Homo sapiens: one gene and its partner. The protein of the gene in region 1 interacts with the protein of each later gene in a pairwise test. Each region holds a gene or a part of one and is shown in the gene's direction. Other genes may lie near its edges.

Region 1 (3,500 bases):
GTTTTTGAGACCTAAGAAAGGAAAGGGTGAAGTTGTTCAGAATAGTCCTAATTTTGGGTCTGTGTTTAAATTCTTTTCAGCCTTAACATGTTCTGAGAATTCTTTTTAATAATGCACACTTTTGGACAACAGTTAAATATATAGCTTACATAAATTTATTGATTATAAATGTGAATAACTTTGTTTTTATTTTTTAAGGAACTAAAACAGAACCGAAGTCAGGAAATTGATGACCATCAACATGAAATGTCAGTACTGCAGAATGCACACCAACAGAAATTGACAGAAATAAGTCGACGACATCGAGAAGAATTAAGTGACTATGAAGAACGAATTGAAGAACTTGAAAATCTGTTACAACAAGGTTATTAGTTTTATTTCTTTATTATTATTATTTTTTTTGAGATGGAGTCTCCATCTGTTGCCCAGGCTGGAGTGCACTGGCGCGATCTCGGCTCACTGCAACCTCCGCCCCCCGGGTTCAAGCGATTCTCCTGCATCAGCCTCCCAAGTAGCTGGATTACAGGTGCCTGCCACCATGCCCAGCTAATTTTTGTATTTTTAGTAGCAATAGGGTTTCGCCATATTGGCCAGGCTGGTCCCAAACTCGTGATCTCGGGTGGTCCACCCACCTCGGCCTCCCAAAGTGCTAGGATTACAGGCATGAGCCACTGCACCTGGCCAGTTGATAGTTTTATTAATTTAACATATTAGATGACATAACTAAATGATAGACCTAGCATTCTAAGACCAGGACAGTGCTGTAAACTTGCCCTAAGTTATAAGGAAGTGTAAATGACTAGTTCTGCTTATCTGCCAGAAATTTGCAGTGGCACCTCTGCTTTTAAGATTCTGTGGCCGGGAGTGGTGGCTTATGGCTATAACCCCAGCATTTTGGGAGGCCAAGGTGTGTGGATCACTTGAGGCCAGGAGTTTGAGACCAGCCTGGCCAACATGGCGAAATCCCGTCTCTACTAAAAATACAAAAATTAGCTGGACGTGGTGGTGCTCGCCTGTGGTCCCAGCTACTCAGGAGGCTGAGGTGGGAGGATCACTTGAGCCCAGGAGGCAGAGGTTGCAGTGAGCCGAGATGGCACCACTGCCCTCCAGCCTGGGCAACAGAGTGAGACTCCATCTCAAAAAAAAAAAAAAAATTCTGTGAAAATGGAAATGTCCTTTTTACCTTTGTGGTAAATAGTTATAATTTATAGATTTCTTTGCATTGTTTGGTGATGATACTTTGGTAATAAATGATTAGAGATATTATCACTTTCTTTCAAACTAAGATACATAGGCCTTTATGTAGTTGATTCAAATATTTTCCCCCAACTTATTTATTTTAAAACACTTAGTTTATTATAGTAATTTAACTTTTAAGCTTTCCAAATTCTGAACTGTCTTATATCTCTTAGTTGTATATAGCAAACCGTTTATTTCTTGGTACTTGACATTTGATGTCATTGTTTTGTGTTTATGTTCTAGGTGGCTCTGGAGTTATAGAAACTGATCTCTCTAAAATCTATGAGATGCAAAAAACTATTCAAGTTCTACAAATAGAAAAAGTGGAGTCTACCAAAAAAATGGAACAACTTGAGGATAAAATAAAAGATATAAATAAAAAATTATCTTCTGCAGAAAATGACAGAGATATTTTGAGGAGAGAACAAGAACAGCTAAATGTGGAAAAGAGACAAATAATGGAAGAATGTGAAAACTTGAAATTGGAATGTAGTAAATTGCAGCCTTCTGCTGTGAAGCAAAGTGATACTATGACAGAAAAGGAAAGAATTCTTGCCCAGAGTGCATCAGTGGAAGAAGTGTTCAGACTACAACAAGCACTGTCTGGTATACAGTCTTTGGAACTTATTTCAGATTGCTGTTTCATTGCATAGTAGTTGTTTTTAGAGACAGATGCTTCACTAACTGAATACTTAGTGGAAATGGCATATTCCTGGAAATGACTGTGTGTCATTTGGGTAGAATTGTGTGGTTTGGATTCAGTGTAAGAGTTAATAGATTGCAAATAGGAATTTCCTATTAAAAAGGATTAGGTATTGCTATACTTTCTGTAACTCATCACAGCCCACATCCTCCAGTTAGGGAATACAGCCTTTCTTCTTCAAAGTCAGTTGTTACCTGTTTGAAACGATCTCCTATATCCAAGCAAAGCCCTGAGTGCTTAGAGCCATAGGTCTTCCACCATTTTCTATGCTCATGATGATATTTAGTTACTGTACCAGTATTCTGTGTTACAGAAAATTAGTACTAAATGAAATAGGCCAAACACCAGTAAATAAAATAAATTTTAAAGTAATTGTACTTACGTTTTAAAAAATAAGTTTACTTATTTAAAAAATAAATTTACTTACATAAGACTAATACATTTACTTACTTATCATATTGGGTGATCCAGATGAGTTTATGTGCTTAAAAGACAAACCCACTGCCTTAGTCCTTCCTCTTTTTTCTATTCCATTGACACAGAATTACTTCAGCCAGTCATAATTGCTTTTTGCCTATGTTAACTATGGCAGCTCTCTGAATGGAGCAGAATAGCGTAGTGGTTAAGGACATGACTGGGTTGGAATCGAGCTCTATCACTAATTAGCTGACCTTGGACAGGTTAACATCTCTATGCATTGGTTATTTCATCTATAGGGTTGGGATAATAATGGTATCTTCCTTGTAGTTTTAGTAATGAGGATTATATGAGTTACTTTCTGCCGCTCTTTAGGATAGTGTCTAGCCAATAGTAAATGTTGAAGAGTTAGCTTTTTTTTTGTTTGTTTTTTTGAGACAGAGTCTCGCTCTGTAGCTCAGACTGGAGTGCAGTGGCACGATCTCGGTTCACTGCAACCTCCACCTCCCGGGTTCAAGTGATGCTCCTCCCTCAGCCTCCCAAGTAGCTGGGACTACAAGCATGTGTCACCACGCCCAGCTAATTTTTGTATTTTTAGTAGAGACAGGGTTTCACCATGTTGGCCAGGATGATCTCGATCTCTTGACCTCATGATCTGCCCACCTTGGCCACCCAAAGTGCTGGGATTACAGGCGTGAGCCACCGCCCCCAGCTGAAGAGTTAGCTTTTAAAATTCTCTGTTCTCCATGATTCCTTCAATCTATTTTTTTCATTCTGCAGCCAGAATAATTTGTCAGAAATGCAAAGCAGGTTACTCCCCTGCATTTAGTACTTTATAGCTGCCTGTGAACTTCGGGATGATGTTTAAATTTCTTAGTTAGACATGATAATGTCTCTCATGATCTAGTTCCTGCCTATCTCTTCAGTTTCAACTATTCCCATGCTCCTGACATTCTAAACTTGAACCATATTGAATTTTCTATAGCTCCTTAAAGCAGCAATGTTACCTCTTCACTCTGTTACCCTTGCATTTTCTGCTTTCTCTGTGTGGAGTGTCTCTATGGCTCTTTTAGCCGACTCTCAGTATATTGATTCAGTGCAGGTATTAACCTCCACTGAGAAGTACCTAGCACTGCCACTT
Region 2 (5,298 bases), on another chromosome or scaffold:
CCCCACGGAGTATCCACTATGTCGTTCTGAATTCAAAGGGTGGAGCACACGGATGTTTTCTGCAGGTGACGCAAGGTCTGTCAAGGTGGCAGGAGGGAAGCAGGGACAGGATTTTGGTTCAGAGGTCAGACAGCTTCTGACCAGGACGTTCAGAAGGGTTGGGTTTCACAAATCTGCTCCTGAAAATCAGTTCCCTCCATATTATCCTTTTTCTAAAAATCTTGGCTGTTTCCTTGATGGAGTCTGTGGTAATCGTTACGCCTGCATTTAGGTGATGCTGATTTGGCTAGTGACTGCCTCTCTCACTAGCTAGACAGGAGCCTCCATAGTCTGAAATGCGTGCGAAGCCTGAGCGTGTCCTTAGCACAGAGCAGAGCACATGGTATGGAGTAGTGGAAATAGATGATGTTCCTTACGGAGTGAAAGGAAAAAGTGATAGGCAGAGCCTTTCTCCCCTCCTTAACTCCTGTCCACCTTCCTCCCTCCCGTCCACCTCTCTCTTCTGCCTCTAGCTGATTGGCTCCCCCTCTTAGTTTGCTTTCCTGGACTTGCTCTCCTGGTCCCTATCTTGCATTCTGACTAAACCACTGGACTCTTTTGCTCTACCCACCTTTTTCTGTCGTAGTGACTCAATCACGGTAGAAATGTTTATTTTCCAGAAACGCCTGTGGCTTGGGGCATTTTCTTCTCTTTTCAAAAAGAGATTCATATTTCGAGTATCTGATGGGACTTCATCACTGTTGCACAACAGCTATGTAATTGCTTTAGGTGCTCTTCCTGCCGTGCAGTGGGTCAAGTGTCACAGACAATAATTTCATCCATGTGCTGGACCCCTTGTTCTCAAGTGTACGCTGCTAAATGGCATGATTTAAAATTCCTATACAGTGTTTATTGCCCTGTCGCATTTTGAAAGCCAGCCAGAAACATCAAACCGACATTTAGGTTCCCCGCCCACTCCGCCACCCCCAGCTCTTGGGAATTCATTTCTTCATCAAAGAGCCACCCAGGACATCAAAACAAAGCTTACTTTCTCAGGCCTTAATTCATCTTTAAAAAGTCATACTACTGTTTTCTTCAGCATCCTATGGATTTATGGGTTTTTTGTCATTATCTTTATTTCTTATTTTGCAGATTCAAATATGACAGTTGCTATCTTCATCAAAGTAACATGAAAGGATATCTTAATCATTGTTAAAGTTGATTTTTGTCCAAATATAAAAATCAAATTAAGTGTCTTATAGCTTACAATATTTATCAGCTTTTGATTTTTGGACATCTCTATTTGTTCTATGTGATCAACGCTGATTTTTTAAAAATCATGCAACTGGATTAATTTTTGATCTTGAAGCCCCCTGGATTATGTAAATACATATTATGGTTTAACAGAGAGGGATGAATGGGATTGAGAAGATATATGTCAAGATATGAAGAAGGAAAGAGGCTACTACACAGAGAGTTAGAATGACAGGGATTAATGAATCTTGCCTGTATCCCTAGTTATTTTTTTTACTGAGAAGACAGTGAGTAAGATTTAAGAGTGAGCAAGCAGTCCTATTTATAGAAAGCTGTTTTTAAGTGCAGCCGCAAAGACAGTGAAAGAAAGAATTGAAAATGCAAGAGATCACCTCCATACTAAATGCTAGCTTCCCCTAACGTCCCAGCTCTGTACAGCATTTTGTAGGAGAAAAAAACAAAAAAAAAAGCATACCAACCCTTGCAGAAATATTATGAAATCTCTTTGGACTCTCTGCAGAATATTCTAGAAGTGCTCTCAGTCTTTAAGTCTATGTTAGGCTTGGGAAGCTGGGGATGAGAAGGCAATATATATATTATCTGGAAACAGCTTGAGTAGGTCTGAACAAAAGACTGGAGGTGAAGGGAGGACATTGAACTTGCAGCACTGCTACAAATATTTATTCTGCAATAAGCCTTGCCTTTCTTAAAGATGTTTCACGGCAGAATAGTAGGAGGGTGAAATCTGCATACATCTCAGTAATAAAGCAATTACTGAGAGAAGAGTTCAAATTTAGGATCCTGTGATTATCACAAGTCCCTCCATGTTAACCTGTTCTCAAACTCTGGGGTTTTAAATTGCAATATATGAAGTCCTTATTTGTCAGTCTGTGTCGGGCAGACAATATCACCCCAGGCTTTGTGATTGACACAAATGTTATTGGACAAGGGAAAAAGAATGCCACATGCTCTTATAAATGAAATAGTCTTTATAAGATTCCATATATAAGTGAGATCATGGATTTTGTATGTGTGTGTCTGGCATATATCACTTAGCTAATGTCCCCCAGGTTCCTTAAGTATATACAATTTAGCATAAAAAAAGAAATGAAATAGTTTTCCTTTCTAGGCCTGTATTTGTTACTTATAGCATTCTGGTTTTCCTGGTTCCAAGTGGGCTTTGGGTTTTATTAATAGTAGAATCGTTGAATTTTTATGCAAATACTGCTGATTTACAGGTTGGAAATCTGGACAAAATCAGACCTGCCCTAGAAGATGATGCTGTGGAAAGTGTTTGCCTTTTGTCTTATAAAGAACCATCTATAAAATGGATCATTTTGTCGCTAGTCTCTCCAGACTATGAAATTGGCATTTTGATAAGGTGATGGAAAGAAATTTGAACTATTTAATTACTGATTTTGATTCATACAAGCCTTGACTCTTTTAGTATTAAAATGAAGAAACAGGAAACAGTTTTAAGTCTGGTTTTACATAAAATTTACACTTTTTTCACACTGAAAATAAAACAGTAAAAGCCAGCTTATAGTTCTTTCTAAATATCCCAACTTTCTCATTATTGGATGCTTCTGCAAAACAGCAGTATGGTGATACCACTCCCAGTGTTGACCTTGATGACCTGAGGGTCCCAAAGTGGCTTCAGCATTATCATGGAGTCACCACAATGATCAGGTAGAAGCTGGTGTTAGGACCAGCGTGAATGGGTCACAGGGGCTGAGGGGGGCTGTTGGGAGGTAGCCCATGCCGTATACTGAAGAGCCATCCATGCCACTTCAGGTGGGTGATTGCAGTGGACTCTCTTACCATTGATTAATCTTCCTAATATTGAGTAAAGCATTGATTCTTCTCATAAGCATGAACTGCTGGATGATGGGAACATTTCTGTGATTGTATCATAAGAGAAAGACAAGTAGAAAGATAATTAGAACTGCTGCAATTCTATGTATATTTTAATTTAATTTATTTTTTTAAATACAAAAGACAGCTATATTTCCTATATAATAAGGAAACTTATTACTTTAAGGAAATATACTTTCTCACGAGAGAAACTCAAGATTCAATTCTTTTCACAGTTAGCCCCGCTGTGGTGTGATTTGATCTTGGGTTCCATAGAGATACAGAAAATCCAAGTCCCAGTCTGCTTAATTGCCATGTTTATTTTTTAATCTCGGCTGTAGAGCATTTTTAATAACTGATATGTAGCTTGCAGGGTAGAAATAACAATGCTTTGGAATATTACCTGTGAGACTTTAGGAATGAGCTGAAGACACCCAACAATGACAACAATGGCCTCTACCAGCAAAACGGGAACCATGACTACTTTATCACTCCTGCCGGATCTAGTTCTTGTCAGTTCCTGCAAAGGCTAGTCACTTGTCTATTTCGTTGGCTAGTGAAAAGGAAATGCACAAGAAATGTGGAATGCTGTCTAACAGACAGAATCCTCCTTTCACAAGTTGTTTAAGTTGGCAGCCCAAGTTAGCAACCTCTATCCGGGTCCTTAACGTGACAGCAGAATGTGGGTAGGATGGTTAATTACCAGATGTGTCTGTTATGACTCACCCAAATCAATAGCTATTAAATCCTTGGTGGCTACTGTTTTAGAATAGGCTTCATTGAATATTTGTATAGAAATCTGGGTAGAAAAATGTGGACCTCGAGGTGATCTAGGTATTTGTTTTGGGCAAGGAACTCTCATCAGTGGTTGGTTTATTTGTGTCTTGGGGGATCTCACATCATCAGCCTTTATTAATCACAGGCACGAGGGGCCCCACACTCTCCCCCATACCTCTACCGCCCCATTGCTGAGGATGGGAGAGTAAGAATATAGAATATGCTGTAGGCTTCTGTGGGATTAGATGCTTGGAGGCAGCGGAGGCAAATGTTCATGGGAACACTGAATATGGAGGAAGAGGCTGTGCCAGCCCCATAGCCACACATCCCCTCCACCCTTACATCAGGATAAGAGGTAGACCACAGTCTGTTGACACTTCAAGCTGAACATTAGTTAGTATCCTTCTATGTGGGCCTTCCCAGGTAAGGATCGAGGACACTGGTTCTCAACACCCCGGTGTTCTGGGTCAGGGAGAACAGAGAAAGGAGATATGGAAGTTTCCTGAAATGCATTTCCTCTCATTAGCCTCCTGTTGGAAATTCTGATGCCAGCGTTGTGGGGAATGGGCTGTAGTTTGGAAAGCTCCCCAGGTGTTTCTAATCCCATGTGACTTTGTCTTGTTTTTCCCACCACCACTGGGGTCTCCCAAGTTATGGTTTCCATGTTTGTTATGTCGTCTTCCAGCTCTGATACCAGAGAGTCTGATTCTGTAGCCTTGGTGTATGCACGACCTGTGAATTTGCATTATTAACGCATGCCTTTGCCTGTTCTGATCCACATGAACCATAATTCACCTTTGCAAAACACACACTTGCAAAGAAGCTACCCAAACAGTAGCTAGGAAGTTGATCCAGTAAAGTTCCAAGTACATCTCGATGAACTGTTGGAGAACTCTGTATTGGGTAGTAATTTATTGGGAATGTCTGTATACAGGGTTAGGTCTTCACTGACCACCATAAGAATTTGGGCATCTTTCGGGATAATTGGTGCTGGGGTTTAGTAACAAGAAAGATTCTGAGTAGAGGGGTATGTAGATCCTGCCAGAGGCACTCCCAATGTGGATGCTAGCAGCTTACGAATCATCTGTGTGTATTAATATCTATCTCTTTGCACCATTTTTTCTTCCTGTTAGCGTATTTGATATTCAGGTTTATAAATGCTTGTGCTTTGCTTATGGTCTTGATTCCATTGTATTTCTCACATTGGTCCCTTCTTCGATAGCAGCTGGAGTCCCAGCAGAGAAGCCCTTTGAAACCTGCCTGTAACCATGAAGCTCCAGGCAAGAGATCCATAGTGGGAAACCATTTGGGTAACTCTACTGAACAAGCTTAAGAGATGAGCTAGAACGGGCTGAGACAGGGCAGGAGAGTGGATCTGTTTGCAGCTAGAGGTTTTGCTTTGATGCCGCCTTGGGATGCTGCACATTCCTTTGT

What was found. Proteins that work in one complex are often made in the same cells at the same time.
Region 2: the proteins of TRIP11 (region 1) and DSCAM interact in a two-hybrid assay, tested with the Homo sapiens proteins (one large-scale study listed by BioGRID and IntAct).

What each region holds. Positions count from the first base shown.
Region 1 is NC_000014.9:92,012,560-92,016,059, reverse strand, and holds part of TRIP11 (thyroid receptor-interacting protein 11), read left to right. Parts: intron 1-198; coding exon 199-364; intron 365-1,482; coding exon 1,483-1,845; intron 1,846-3,500.
Region 2 is NC_000021.9:40,836,041-40,841,338, reverse strand, and holds part of DSCAM (cell adhesion molecule DSCAM isoform CHD2-42 precursor), read left to right. Parts: intron 1-5,298. UniProt on the Homo sapiens protein: Cell adhesion molecule that plays a role in neuronal self-avoidance. Promotes repulsion between specific neuronal processes of either the same cell or the same subtype of cells.